3 separate regions of the Homo sapiens genome follow, and regions 1 and 3 are each linked to region 2. Evidence: fine-mapped expression QTL. A gene starts in region 2. Each other region holds a variant in brackets. All regions are shown on one strand. Distances are from middle to middle. Region 1 overlaps PLXDC2 (plexin domain containing 2). Region 2 holds the start of PLXDC2 (plexin domain containing 2). Region 3 has its middle 25 kb from the start of PLXDC2.

Region 1 (5,228 bases), 290 kb before region 2:
ACCTAGCTGCTGCAGTAAAGAGTTGCTACTTTCATTAGAAAAACAACATATTCAAACAGTGAGCAGTTGAAATAACCTATAAAAATATGTATTACAGAATGCTGTCATACACTGAAGACTAAGTCTTCAGGGAATTCTTACAAGGGGCTGGAGTTGGTCTACAGAAAATTCCTAAAGAACGTAGAAACCACTGCAAGATATTAAAGATAGGAGGCTTAAAATTTTCAATAGCTTTTGAAGTGAGAAAACTTCAGTGTAAAACATTTGACAACAAAAACCATAAAAATAAAAATAATATTTGATCCTATTGCCCAGAAGTAACTACTGCTGCTAATATTTTCAATTTTCTTACATTCTCTGTCAGTAATCTCATTGCGTTTCCCTAGACAATCCATTCTTTCAAGATAAATGTGACTAATTCATATTGTGTCATCTCTCCTCAAATCTACCACCTATGTTCAGACTTCCTAACTCTCAGCTAATGACTTTACTTCTTATCTCACTGTGAAAGCAGAAATAATCAGGAAAAACCTGCTCCAATCTTAGGCCAACTCCTTTCTTCAGGTACTGGACCCCATGTCCTTCTGCTCTGAAAGTCTCTGCTCCTTCAATTATATCTTATAAAAGATGTGTCAGCCGGGCACGGTGGCTCACGCTTGCAATCCTAGCACTTTGGGCGGCCAAGGCAGGCGGATCACCTGAGGTCAGGAGTTCGAGACCAGCCTGGCCAACATGGCAAAACCCTGTCTCTACTAAAAATACAAAAATTAGCTGGGCGTGGTGGCGCATGCCTGTAAACCCAAGCTACTCAGGAAGCTGAGGCAGGAGAATTGCTTGAACCCAGGAGGTGGAGGTTACAGTGAGCCGAGATCGTGCCACCGCACTCCAGCATGGGAGACAACGATACTCCGTCTCAAAAAAAAAAAAAGAAAAAAAAAAAGAAAAGATGTGTCTTCCCAGTTTTCTCTCTCTCTCTCTCTCTCTCACACACAAACCGCCTTTAACCCCACATCTCTTCCAGCTATGATGCTATTCCTTTCCTCTGCACCCCTTTACAACATTCTTTTAATGGTTTGTTAAAACTGCTATCTCTGGATCCACATTCAATTTCCTCTCCACCTCTTCCTTGAACCCACAAGTCTCGGGTGTCTGTGCCCAGGGCTTTTTCAAAGCTGTTCTTATCAATATGAGCAGTGACATCTACATGGCCTATCTAATGCTCATCAGAGCACTTGAAGTCCTTTGTGGGCCTGATCTTCCATAAAACAGTATTAAAAATTATATGACTGCATTGTTATCAACACAAATACAACCCAGGCAGGTTTCATTTTTATATATGCACTGTCATTATATTTATATTTTTCTATTGATTTGAAAATAAATAAAAATTAAAATATTTTGGGGGCCCCTAAAAGTATTGTGGGTCCTTAGCACTGTGGTCCCTGATGGCTGCATTAACCCTGATGGCGAGATTTCTGTCCGCACCTTCTTAGACTCTCAGAGGTACTCCACATAGTTATCGCCTTCTTGACACCTGTTAGCAAATGTCTTCAAAGACACTGCACTCTTGGTTTTCTTCCCACCTCATTGGCTGCTGTTTCTCAGTCTCTTTTGGAAGCATGTTCTACCTCTTCCTGCTTTGTAAACATGGATGTACTCCAGGGCTGGGCCTAGGATACCTTCTCTAGCTGCCTATACTCAATAATTTGGTGTTCTTGTCCTATCCCGTGGCTTTAAAAACTGATAAACTCCTAAAATTATACCTCCAGCCGCCATTTTTCCTCTAGACATTATACTCAAAGATCTTAACTGCTTATCTGACATGTTCATTGGAATATTTTATGGGAATCTTAAATTTACCATGCCTGAAACAGGATTCCCCCATCTTGTCCTTCTGCAGTGTTCTGTACCACAATAATAGGCCCTGCCATTTGCTCAGTTGCTCAAGCCAAAATCCTTAAAACCACCCTGGACTTTTCTATTTTTCTCGTACCCCTTACATAATTTATAGCAAATATTATTACCAATCCCTTCAAAACATATCCAGAATCCTTCTGCTGCTGGTGATGGAATAGGACAGACATATAGTCCATTTAATAGAAATAAAGGAGTGATTAGATTTATGGACTAAGGGATAGTAGGAATAAAAACAATGACTATATCTTGGGATAAAGGCTGTGGTGCAAAGAGAAACATGAAAGAGTGTTCTTTTTACCCTCAGACAGATAACGATAATTATGCAAATGTACTGCAATTTAGGAAACACCGAGTTATCTAAATCAAAATAATTTAATCAATATATGTAAGATGTTGTCTAGGCGGAATAATAACATGGAATGTAGATTGTGGATTTGGTATTACAGCAGACAGAAAACTTCTGAACTATAGAAATAAACAATGACAAGGTTAGACCACAATGGTAGCAGTCACTGAGCTGAAATAGACAAGGATCTCTTAGAAAGGCTGGTAAAAAACTGACTGGGCACAGTGGCTCATGCCTGTAATCTAAGCACTTTGATAGGCGAGGCGGGAGGATCAAATGAGGTCAGGAGTTTGTGACCAGCTTGGCCAACATGGTGAAACCCCATCTCTACTAGAAAT[G/A]CAAAAATTAGCCGGGCATGGTGGGGGTCGGGGGGCTGTAATCCCAGCTACTCGGGAAGCTGAGGCGGGAGAATTGCTCGAACCTGGGAGGTGGAGGTTGCAGTGAGCCGAGATTATGCCACTGCACTCCAGCCTGGGCAACAGAGTGAGATTCTATCTCAAAAACAATTAAAAAAAAAAGTTTGGTAAAAAAACAAGATATTGTCACTTAATAGACTCTAGAAGAAGAGAATGTTTCCTGAGGAGGAGATGATCAGGAGAACCTAATCCCACAAAGAGGTCAAGAATGCAGGTCAGTCAATGGCCTTAAGATTTGTTAAGGTGTGGGCGCACTACTGACTTGAGCAGCTGAAGTTTTTTGATGATGAACCCAGGAAGCAAAGTAAGAACATTAAGGATTTTTCAATGATAAGTATTAATCAAAGACATTTTTTAGTAGAAGAAGTAGCACAATGACTGCAGACAGAAATTAGGTGAAATCAGCTTTCAAGATTTGAAATACAAAGATTTGAGATATGAAGTGCACAATAGCTGAAGAGAGAAAACAGGAAACTTCAAGAAGCAGAAAGGATTGATCTAGACAGTAGATTCCTTAGGAGTCTCAGTCTAAAGAATAAAACGATTGACTACAGTTGACAGGAGTTTGCTTTATTTGGGTGCATAATTCAATTTCTCCTTTCTTCACTCAGAATCAACACAAACTTTCTGATAATGGCTGAGCTGAACTGAAATGAGAGCCATCCGCCTACTTTGGAAGAATGTGGATAAATAGATCAACACTACCCCCATCCTCTCAAATCTTTATACTCACACATCATTTTTAGAAGCCACTGTACCCCTAAACCAGATGCCATCAATACTTATCTCTGTCACAATTTTTCCTTTTGACATATTTTCATCATTTGGCAGAAAAAATTTTAAAAAGAAAAGAAGAATCATAACTGTCGGCCAATAAATGGCTTGAAATCTTAGTAACAAGTTCAAATTAAATTACCAAACTAGTAAGTGAGAACAACATACAATATAATATGGTGATTGTCATTTAATTGCCAACACAATTCACAACGTGCTGTTAATTTTTTTTTTTAATTTTAGCATGGGTAGATATGATTAGGGCTGCTAATACATAGTATGCAATTTTCATCTCAATTGAGATGAGTACTCAGCAAACACTGTGTTCTGGTAATGGACATTTTCAAGATCACCTGATTGAACAGAGAATCAAAAGGTACAGTGCACCAAATTTTTGGCAAAAAATATTGAAGTAACCAAAAGACTCTCTTCCCCTTCCTTTCTGTCACCTGTGTTGCTAAGCTGTTATCAATTACTCTGCAGGCCAAGGCAATTTCACCTGACATTACATATCAGGGAGAGAGGAGAAGGGCAACAGGAATGACATGTCCAGAGCAACCGTATTATAGTCAACTATCAATTAAATTCAGTGTCTTCTGAATTACACAAAATGCTTGCACTTGGCTGATGACAACACAATGTTCATTGTACTTCCACCCTTTCCCTTGGAGGAAAAAAAAATCACTGACATCACATCACTTCCATGTTATGGATTTTCTGTTATGTTACCATGGAAACACCATTTCCTTTCATTATCTCTCTTTCCCACACAAACACACAAAACGAAAATGGAATTACACATTTATAAACACTTCACTACAAACTCCTCTGGTAACTAGGTCCAGTGAGAAAGAACAGGACTCAATTCTTGCTATGTCAGTCACTGGTTTAACCAGAAATCATTCCTCACTTTTCCCCAGTGCAACATACTGTTTTCCATGATCAGGATTATTTCCGTGGATATAATCAGCATTTGCTAGACTAAGATTCTTTTAAAGTTTGTGCTCTTATTGTGTAGTGACAAGAAGGGCATATTTTGCTTTCTTTAAGGTACTGGTCTAAATTCCTCCTATAAATTTTGCGACAGGGAATAAGTTGTTAGACTCATGCTTTCAATTAATTCAATTTTTGAATAGGTAACATATGAAATAATATTTTATTTTTCTTTTGTGTCACTAATACATACTGGTTTGTGTTTTTAGGCCCCATAAATCGTAACCGTGCAGTATTACTTTTGCACAAAAGGTATTTTGATTTTTTTAAATGTCTACTTTAAAATGAATTACTAAAAACAAAAATACAGTAAAACAGATGATATGATACCAATTAAACATAATTAAAAGAATCTCCCTAGCAACATAATCACTCCCTCAGCCAACTCTAACTAGGCATTATCCTCCCAGAACCTTTCTAGCAGATCTTTTCAAGTGAGAAAAGTTCTGTGAAAACATTTTCTGATGACTCAGAAGCCCTCACTCACACAATTTAGCACTTGTTTTTCTTATTTTGCTCTTCATGGACTATTATTTTCTATTTTCTTGCTGAGCAAAGAAACCCCACACAATCAATATAAAGAAAAACTAACTTTGAAACAACATTCTTTTGAGGATCTGTGAGAAGTGGATGGGAAATGAAAGTACGTGAAATATTCAAATTTTCATTTCTAAATAAATGGTAGGTGGAAGATTTTTAAAACTATGATTTATCAAAATGATGGGCCATCAGGCAGATATTAGTTTTGCAAATTAATATTTATATGGTCATAACACAATCAG
Region 2 (5,228 bases):
TCCATCTGTGACTCTCTAGTTGACTGTTGAGGACGCATGCATACTTTCCGGGCAATCATTTAAATTACACACACACACACACACACACACACACACACACACACACACACACCAGAAAAGAACAAATTGACAAATTGATTATCCTAGGGAGAAAGTTTTCGTTTTCTTTTCTTTTCCCTCCAAGTTTTTTCTTTTTTCTTTTTCTCTCGTTTCACCTCCTCTCGAAGTCCACCCTAGTTCACCAATTTCTGCCAAGATCTCTTTCTGCCTGTGTCTTCACTTTCTTCACTGAAAGGCAGAAATGGGGAGTAGGCACCCAGTTCGCGGTGGGCAGGGTTCCAGGAGGCAGCTCCCGCTCGGCGATAGCCCCCGGGGCGCAACTCCCCGCAGGACGCGCACCTGCCAGGACAGCCACTAAGAGGATGCGGAGGTTGGGGGCCCTCTCGGGGACAAAATCAGGGCACTCCAAGGAACTCTCTGCGCGTTCAGGCCTGTCTGTGAAGCTGGCAGGCGGAGGACAATGGGAGCAGGGGTAGGTCTCCAGAGGCGAGCCCGCCTCCACCTTTCCCACCTGCTCCCCACCTCTGCGCCGGCCGCATTTACCCCGCCCCCCTTCCAGCGCCCGCTTGGCCCAGGTCACTAGACGGAGCTAGTGGGGATCGCCAGGGGAAGGAAGGTGCTGCCACAGGGAATTTTCTCGTGCAGAGGGGAGACCTGCAATCCCTGGCTTTCACAACGTCCCCCACCCACCCCATACCACACACGCTTAGTTTAACCAGCAGCGAGGAAGGAGGAGGAGCCGGAGAGCACACAGCCTGGAGATGCCAGGTCCTAGGAGATGTATCCACGGAAGAAGCTTTGCTCTCACACTGAAGCCCTCCCTGGGCTACTTTGGGGAGACAGTACCACCCCCTGCCGCCCAGGTGAAGTAAGCCCGAAAGCCTCAAGAAAACCCCTAGTCCCCGGCGTCCTTCTCTTGATAACCCTCTTTCCCCATTTGGGAAGCCTAAGTTTAGCCGAAAAGCAACTGCAATAAGTTTCCCAAGGGCAGATAGGTGATGTTGGGGGGAGAGGGTAGGGAGCACGAGAGTGCCAGAGAGGTCTTCAGCTGCGCACAAAATCAGCAAGCTAAAGTGCATCTTACTTACCAAGGATTTGGTCTCCGGGTTTCCCATCGGCGAACTGAAACTGGTCCGTGAAGAAGTGGCAAAGTAACATAACTCCTGCAGCGGCCAGGTCGGCCTTCGGGAACCTCGCCATGCCGCCGCCGCCACCTCCCTACCCCACCCGCCAGTCCTTCGCCGGTGCTCGGGGGCTCCCGATGCAATAGGCACGACCGGGCCAAACGCTGCGGATCGGTCTCGGTAGGACCCGGAGGCCTTTGTAAATGTCGCTGCGATTTCACAGTAGGGAACCGAGAAGAGGAAGAAGCGAACGCGAGTAGGAGCGCAGCGCTCTTCGGACCTCTGAGGCTCTCTTTGCAACTTGCCACACTCGCAGCCCTCACCCGACACTGAACAACAACCGCGGGGAGGAGAGGCCACTTGCAGCCGAGGCTCGCAAACTGTCGGTTCCACTCGGGCAGCGCCAACCCGGTGCCCGCGGACGGTGACTTCCGAGCCCCAGCGATGCGCTCCACTGGGTTCAAAACAGATCTAATTCCACAGCCAGCGCCGCTGCCTGCCCCAGATCCACTAGGGCTGGTCGGCTCTGCAGGAACTTTCCTCTGTCTAGGGATGGCCCCGGCAGGAGGTTTAGGTTTGCGGGAAGGAGGTTGATGACGAAACCCTCCCGACAAGTTTTGCTTCTTTTCTTCGCCCGACGCAGGGCGCGCGTCCTTTCTCGCAGCCGGAGGAATGGGCAGCTCCAAAGAGCTGAGCCCTGGGAAGGTTAGGGCTGCAGCAGTCTGAGGTCCGAAGCCAGGAAAAAAATGTGTTTAAAAAAAAAAAAAAAAAAGAGGAAGAAGAAAGGAAAAGGGTGGAGTGGGAGGGAGTCACGCTGGAACCTATCGGGAGAGGGTTCCTCCGGGCTCAGGAGGAGGTGGCCCCAAGCCCCCGCGGAGCCCCAGGAGTTTGGTGGCGGAGGAGGCGCTGCCGTCGCCACGCTCCCCCGCGCTCCTTCTCCACACTTTGAGGAGGGAAGGCAGCTCGCAATTTGCCAGATCTGCCGCCGCACCCTCCTCCCTCCTCCCTCCGCCCTCCCCTTCGCTCCTCCAGGCTTCTCCCACCTTCCTCCCTGAAACCGGCAGCCCGCACAGACCTGTCCAATGGCTGCACTTTCCTCGGGGCTGGCTGAGGAGTCGCGGCCAACAGATTAAGCCGGGGGAGCCTAGCGAAGGGGAGGGAGAGGGCCACTCCAGCCCCGTGCGCCCCAGGCAGCCGGCTGCCCCAGAGCGCGGGGAGAGGGGACAGGCCGGGGAGCTATCGGGGGAGCGCGGGGCGGTACCTCCGCGCCGCCGGGGCGCCATCCTCGCAGCCTGCTCGCACGCCCTGGGCAGCTCCGCCAACTGCGCCCCACACCCACCTGGCTCCCGGGCCGCCTTCGCGCCCGACTGCGGGGGGCGATCGCGCCCCGCCCCGACCCTGGCGGGGTCTCCCTGGGCACGAAAGGGTTAACCACAGCTCGCCCCTTCGCGGAGGCTGGTTCTGGTAGTGGCTAGGGAGTGGAGAAAGCAAACCAGAGCCGGTTCGGTTACCGACTCTGCGAAGCCCCCTCGACCCCAGCCCAGCGCGGGAGGGTGGCGGAAGGTGGTGCACCGCAGCGTGGTCCCCGCCGCTGCCGCCGCGGCTTTGCAAAGTGTCAGCGGGGGCGAAAGCGAGAGTTTAAAGGAACAGGAGGCCCATTGAATTTCCTACCGGAGCTTTCAGGGGCTCTGGCTCCCCAGTTTGTTTTTGTTTTTTCAGCTCGGGGATCTGTTTCCGCGTTAACCCTTGCCGGCCCTCTCGTTAGTTGATATCTTATTTTGCATACAGTTAATCATTTTTGAAAGGGATAAATACAAGGAAAAGAAGCAAAGCGCTATTGGTTAAAAGTACAGGATCTAGAGCCCGGACAGCCTGGGCTGGAATTTCACCTCCCCCGCAATGAGCAGTTTATCTCCTAGCCTCAGTTATCCATCCATCAAATGGAGAGAATTAGAGTAACGCCCTTATAAGGTGGTTGCAATGGATTGGATGAGTTAACTGTATATTTAATAAATATAGAACATTGCCTACCGCAAAGTACATGGCTTTGTTTAAGTGTTTACTGAAGCAAAAGTGAGAGAAGACGACTTCAATCACATAATAAATGTGCATGTGTTCTAAGTTCAAGGTCCTTTCCACTCCAAGCTCTGAAGAGTCTATGGATGCTGTCAATAGATGTCTCGGCTTGCCACAAAACCCACTGGAAGTGGATCCGGATAATCAATCTACCTTTGCAAATGTGATGCTCAAAGGACGGCTCTCTCATGGGAAACAAGAAAGGTTTCCCTTAATCCAATACTCAATTTGCTCTTTATTTCCAAACAACAGATATACACGTATAAACACAAACATATATCATGCCTATACTCTTTATTATGCCAGGACCCTGGCTCTTTCCTGAGCTTTCCTCCCATAGGTTGATTTCTACTTAGGTAACTGGGTTTTTCTATTTCTGCTTAACTAGGAGTGTTTAAGTTCTATGTAATATTACATCCGAATTTGAGTACCCGGATATATACCTGCTTAAAATCAAGTTTGAAAACTGAGTCTTCTCATCAAAACCTGATTGTGCGGTTGACCCTTGAACAACAGGGGTTTGAACTGCGAGGATCCGCTTTTGCATGGATTTTCTTCCTCCTCTGCCACCCCTAACAGAGCAAGACTAACCCCTCCTCTTCCTCCGCTTCAGCCCACTCAATGTGAAGACGATGAGGATGAAAGCCTTTCTGATGATCCACTTCCACTTAATAAACAGTAAGTATATTTATCTTCCTTATGATTTTCTTAACATTTTCTTTTCTCTAGCTTACTTTATTTTAAGAATACAGTATGTAATATGTAGAACATACCAAATATGTGTTAATCAACTGTTTTTATATTATCAGTAATGCTTCTAATCAACAGTAGGGTATTAGCAGTTAAGTTTATGAGGAGTCGAAATTATACATTAATTTTCTACTGTGTGGGGGTCCGTCCCCCTGACCCCCATACTGTTCAAGGGTCAACTATAGTTTAATTGATGCCGATTCTTTTTGAGGATCATAAATCCATGCGGAAAGCGTCCCAAAATATTCTGCACAACTCCAGCTCCCATCATATCTAAAATAATGGGGAATCCAGCGGAAACCATTTCAAGAAAGCACCTCTTTTTTCAGACCGAGTTATTTCTCCTTCTTTCACAGTAGAAAAATAGGTGTTTCCTCCTCTGAGAACAAGCAAATCTCCACCTCTCCTTGCTATCATTTTCTTTCTTTTTTCCTTTATTATTTTATGTGCGTATTCGCAGGGTTCATTTTTCTTGTTACTTGCGGTCATCAATGCTTTGACCACCTGATTGAAACTATATACTTTTTGTAAGTAGAAATTTGATGTCAAAATTTGAAAGGGGGTAAATGGTCATTCAGGGTCAGTCAGGAAGGACTTTTATATGTTTGGTTATGTCACTGATGCTGCTGAATTGTATTGGTTTACTCCTATCTTAATTTTATTCTGAAGAGCTATACACATAGTAAATGCGGAAGTAAGGGAGAAGATACAAGTAAGCAAAACTCAATCATGCTTGATGAGATTTGCTGTTCAGAAATAAAGAAGAAAGAGCAACATTGTATAACAATAAACTCAAGCTCTGATCATTTGCCTTAAATGTTGATGAATGATTATTTTTTTAAAGTATATTCTGCCTTTACACTGTAGCAAGGAACGAATAAATAAAATGTATGTAGGACAGTATGTTCAGAGTGAAATGGAAAAAGTAGATTACTCATAATTCTGGCTAAACTAGGGTATTTTGTGGCCTAAATTATTTGGGTTTGCCATACACATTTCACCACAGTAGAAGTGTCTCTTTCCATTTTGTAGTAACAAAGTAAGTATTTGTGGAAGATGTTACATCTTCCATCTGACATGAGGGAGAGACGTAGTAACGGCTGTTTGTATTCACTATAGACATAGGAAAGGAATTGGTGGTTCTTTCACCTACTCTTAATTTTAGCTAATCTCTCAAGGAACAAATGAATCAGGAACCACAAATGAATAGCACTTAGA
Region 3 (5,228 bases), 24 kb after region 2:
TATATAAACTACATTATCTAAAACTTGTGTTAGAATATGTATTTATTTATTTATTTATTTATTTTGAGATGGAGTCTTGGTCTGTTACCCAGGCTAGAGTGCAGTGGTACAATCTCAGCTCACTGCAATCTCTACCTCCCGGGTTCAAGCAATTCTGCCTCAGCCTCCTAAGTAGCTGGGATTACAGCTGCGTGCCACCATGTCTGGCAAAAAAATTTTTTTTTTTTTTTAGTAGAGGCGGGGTTTCACCATGCTGGCTAGGCTGGTCTCGAACTCCTGAACTCAGGATCCACGTGCCTCGGCCTCCCAAAGTGCTGGGATTACAGGAGTGAGCCACCACGCCCAGCCTATTTATTTATTTTTTGAGGCAGGGTCTCATTCTGTCACCCAGGCAGGAGTGCAGTGCCATGATCTTGGCTCACTGCAACTTCCACCCCTTGGGCTCCAGTGATCCCCCAACCTCAGCCTCCCTAGTAGCTTCGACTACAGGTGCACACCACACACCTGGCTAATTTTTGTATTTTTTTTGTTGTTGTCGTTGTTGTTTTAGTAGAGACAGGGTTTCACCATGTTGCCAAGGCTGGAGAATATTTAGATCGACGAGGGTCTGATACTTGTTCTTCCAAATGAATCAAAGTAGTTGTTCAATAGAAACTGATACTGTCATATACACAGTTTGGAATGTAAAACTTATTAAAAAGTTACAGACCTTGAGAATATCTTATATTTTAGATGTTCTTTAATTTGGGGATTCCGATAGGTCACCCTCTAGTTTTGTGATATTCTACAGCTGGAATGAATCCTGATCCTCATAACAGAGCTGGGTTCTGCATAAGTAGAGAGTTCATCCAAATTATGATCAAGCTTGACAGAACCTCTTCTCAAATCAGATTGTGAAGTGGCCACAATGACACTTGAATAAAACAGTGGAGTTACAGTAAAGGGAACAATATCCTTTTTATTGCCTTTTCTTCACAGCTCAGAACAGAGACCAGTCTGGCTAATTTGGGAACGGTGACAAAATTAGTAACGGTTTGTAAATGCATAATTAGATGATTTTTAAAATTTTAACTTTTCATACTTTAAATGTAAGGTAAAATCAACAGTGAAAATGAAATGCCTATCTAGAAAAAATAGCTCCAATTAGCTCATTATTCAATTCTGCCCTTCTCTTTCTCATTCTTCCTTCTTTTAATGCCTGCATTTGCCTTTTCTTGTCTATGAAGATATTTTGGAGTCTAAAAGATTATTGTCATAAAGAAGCTATAATGTATAACCTTGGCTAGTTTCTTCAAGGGTGTTTTTAAGAATAAAATGAAACCTTGGTGCTTGCTTCATTAATATATATACTAAAACTGGAACAGCACAGAGATCAATATCGTCCATGTGCAAGGGTGGTTCACACATTTGTGAATCATTCCACATTTTTCAATCTTTGTGTTGGAAGAGACGAGAGTATGGAGGGAGGATGGAAAAGGGGATTAAAGGGTACTTCATCTCTATCACTAATATTTTACTTCTTATATTAATAAAAGTTCATCTTCACGTATGAATCTAAGTGTTAGTTGTATCTTTACTGATTTTTGTGTTTAAATATTTTTTAAAATATTACAGCAGTCATTTCATTTCCAAGTTCTTATTTCTTCCAATTTTATTTATTTTTTTATCTATTTAGAGACAGGGTCTCAGTCTGTTGCCCAGGCTGGAGTGCAGTGGCCCGATTACAACTCACCACAGCCTTAGCTTCCCAGGCTCAAGTGATCATCCCACCTCAGCCTCCTGAGAAGCTGGACCACAGATGTGTGCCACCACACACAGCTAATTTTTGTAATTTTGGTAGAGACGGGGTTTCACCGTGTTGCCTAGGCTGGTCTCAAACTCCTGGGCTCAAGCAAGTCTGCCTGCCTCATCCTCCCAAAGTCCTGGGATTACAGGTGTGAGCCACTGCTCCAAGCCATTTCCAGTTTTTTAATCTAAAGAAAATAAATCAGAAGTGTATGCCAAGATTTATACATAAGGATATTCACTTCAGCACTATTTATAATAGAAAAAAATGGAAACAAGCTAAAAGTTGAACAATACAGAAATGGTTAAGATAATTATAGCAAAGTTATGTGATTATTATACATTTATTTGGAAATCTTACTTTCAGTATGTTTCCTATTGCTGCTGTAATATATTACCACAGGTCTGGCAGGGTGGCTCACACCTGTATTCCCAGTTCTTTGGGAGGCCGAGGCAGAAGGATTGCTTGAAGCTGGGGAACTGGAGTCCGGCCTGAGTAACATAGCAAAAGCCTATCTCTACGATAATAATAATAATAATAATAATAATAATAGTAATAATAATAATAACACAAATAAAAAGCTAGCTGGGCATGGTGGCATGAGCCTGTAGTCCTAGCTACTAGAAAGCCTAACGTAGGAAGATGGCTTGAGCCCAGGAGTTCGAGATTGCAATGAGCTATGAGTGTGCTACCGCACTCCAACGTGCAGGACAGAGCGAGAGCCTGTCTCTAAAATAAATAAATAAACACAAACTTTGTGTCTTAAAACAACATGAATTTATTACCTTACTAGTCTGGTGGGAGGTCAGAAGTCCAAAATGGGTCTCCAGGGAAAAAGCAAGATATTGGCAGGGCTGCATTTCTTCTCTGGGGGAATACATTTTCCTTACTTTTCTCAGCTTCTGGAGGCTTCCTGCATCCATTGGCTCGTGGCCTGAACCTTGCATAGCTCCAGGCTTTTGCTCTCATTGTTACACTTTCTTCTACTGACTCTGATTCTCCTCCCTCTCTCTTGTGATTATATCATGCCTATCCAAATAATCCAGAATCATCCATCTCAAGGTGCTTAAATTAATGTCTACAAAGTCCCTTCTACCATGTAAAGTAAGATATTCATAGGTTCTGGGAATAAAGATGTGGTCAACAAACCAGTGGGAAATTAGGATATCTCTTCAACTTTTATAACATTTATAAACACATATATAAACTATTATGTACATATTTGGATGGAATTGACTACAAAGCAAATTAGCCCTTCTCAAAAGTTGTTTTCTTATTAACTATTATTTTTAAG[C/A]TGTGTAAAGTATAAGCCTGTGTTTGAAGTGCATCCTTCAGTGTGTAACATGAATTCTTGACCCAGTTATCAGGTGACTTCAGTCTCACATGTACATATCATGCAGGCTGGGATTTTTCCATTCATTTTGTTGGACAACACCCAGATACCTACTTTTAGAAATTAAGCAAGCACGGAAATGAATCATTTGTAAGTAAAGGTCTTAATCTGCCTGATTGGCACTTTCTTCTCTTTTCTATGTATCAAGGACACTTAAGTGTTAGAAGGAACAATCCGATGCTGTATCATTCCAGATATCTTTTAAGTCAGAGTATATGTAGTACACACCAAATGACTGACATGCAACTTTCTGGTCTCAACCATGAGATTAACAAAGACTGGATGAGATGAACAGAGACTGGAGAATTTATCATTTACTCTTCCATTTCACTTGATTTTCTTTTTTTTTCTTTAGTTATGCTACATGTTTATTCTTCTTCTATTACAGAAAATAGTCTATTGAAATTAACAAGTGTAACTATTAACACTATAATTTAAAGATTCATTAAAAAGCAAAATTTAGAGAAATTCAACCACATGAGTATAATAATCAATCATGCCCTTTTGGTGGTTTAAAATGCTATTAGAGTCTTTCCCTTCACATTTTGTGAGAAAATACAAGTCCTAATTTCTCCTCAAATACTAATGAGATATATGAAAACAATGTAATCTTTCAAAAGGCAGCCATTATTTTATGTATTTGTGCTCTGTGAGAACCTATTAATCTTTTAAAAAATTATTTGGTGGACATTTTAAAAATAAAATTTGGAAAGCCATCTGAATTTTGGAAAGGTGGGTAAAGACTGTCTCATTCTATCATCAACTATAATTTTATTACTTTCAGATATAATTTCCAATTATAATCCCAAGCCAATAACATGAGAATTATTAAAGCACAATTAACGATACATCAGATAAATTATCTTTTATTTTTTACTTACTCTATAGTGTCATATGGAAGCTGTGTATTGACTTTGAAACCAGAAATGTTAAATTCCATATTTTTAAATCCCAAATCACTGACACCTCTAAATAACTGTTAAATTGTTGTGACTTCTGTTGTTGTTTCCTATGTTTCTAGTTTCAATTGAAAGACCCGAGATCTAGATTTTACTTATTACCTGTGTCCTGGAGCTTGTCAGCCACACCCTCTGAGCATCACATTTCTCCTCTGTAAAGCAAAAATAACAATTCCTTCCTTAGTTCAGAAGGTGGTTGTAAAAATGAAATAATATAGAACCACATGGTAAACTCTACTGCAACTAGAAATGCAGTATTATTTTATATCAGAAATACTAAGTGCTTAGATAAGCATCCCAAATTTATTATTTCAGGCACTTGAAATCTCAGGCTTGGAATGTTACAATGAGTAAGTTATACCTCTTCCTACCATCCTTTCTCCATTTTGTCGCCAAAATTATTTTCTCCGAGATGTTATGCTCTTCACTAGAGTTCAGCCTCCTTAGACTGTCTTTCAAAGCAGGTTTCGGTACTGCCCACATTTCGTGGATCTTCTCCAGTAGCCCTGAAACTTGATGACCTGCCTTTAACCCAAGTCATCAAGTTTAAACCTGTATTCTTTCTGTCTCTGTTAACTTGCTCATGTAATTCACTTTAATGGAAATATACAGTCAACCCCTTCTGGTGTCTTCACTTCTTGCTCTATCCATTACTGAATATGTAACCCTATCGCCTTTGAGAGAAACCCTAGTACAGAATGTGCTCTTTCCTCTATATATGCCCACTGCTTTTTAAAATACCAACAGTTTTCAGGTCCATAATTTGTTTTCCAGAGCTCATATTTTTATCTATTTAATAAAGTTGGTACTCAGCTCAAGATGTTCTCAAATTGCCCTTATATCTTAGAGTGTGGAATCAAAAGATGAATCATAAATGAAAACTATCATGAAAGAGGATGAAAAAAAAAAGAGGGGAGGCAAAGTTTTGAGATGTTGGGAAAAGAAATCGCTATCCAGGATAGAGAAGAAAAAAAACTGGGGGGGGAGAAAAAATATATATACATATATAAACAATAAACAAAGAAATGAAACAATTCAATTATTCCCTCGGCTGTTGATTTTTGTTTGTTTTAATGGTTCCCCTGTGTTT

Evidence for each region. PIP is the estimated chance that this variant, and not a neighbour inherited with it, causes the effect. A credible set is the group of variants that fine-mapping cannot tell apart.
Region 1: its variant is the best candidate, but not a certain one, in a credible set for the expression of PLXDC2 in blood mononuclear cells (TOPMed, PIP 0.82).
Region 3: its variant is the best candidate, but not a certain one, in a credible set for the expression of PLXDC2 in whole blood (INTERVAL, PIP 0.73).

What each region holds. Positions count from the first base shown.
Region 1 is chr10:20,099,349-20,104,576 of GRCh38, reverse strand. The region is part of intron 4 of PLXDC2 (plexin domain containing 2); the gene reads right to left. Among named protein-coding and RNA genes, the nearest start is that of PLXDC2, 290 kb to the right of the region's middle. The variant G/A (reference allele first, on the strand shown) is at 2,602.
Region 2 is chr10:19,813,112-19,818,339 of GRCh38, reverse strand. PLXDC2 (plexin domain containing 2) reads right to left here and starts at 1,908. Exons shown (of 14, transcript NM_032812.9): 1 at 1,149-1,908. The coding sequence starts at 1,260. It overlaps LOC124902388 (a long non-coding RNA gene), which reads left to right and starts at 2,112. Exons shown (of 2, transcript XR_007062078.1): 1 at 2,112-3,938. RefSeq lists an enhancer at 2,219-2,984.
Region 3 is chr10:19,789,199-19,794,426 of GRCh38, reverse strand. It overlaps the pseudogene RNU6-1212P. Among named protein-coding and RNA genes, the nearest start is that of PLXDC2, 25 kb to the left of the region's middle. The variant C/A (reference allele first, on the strand shown) is at 3,081.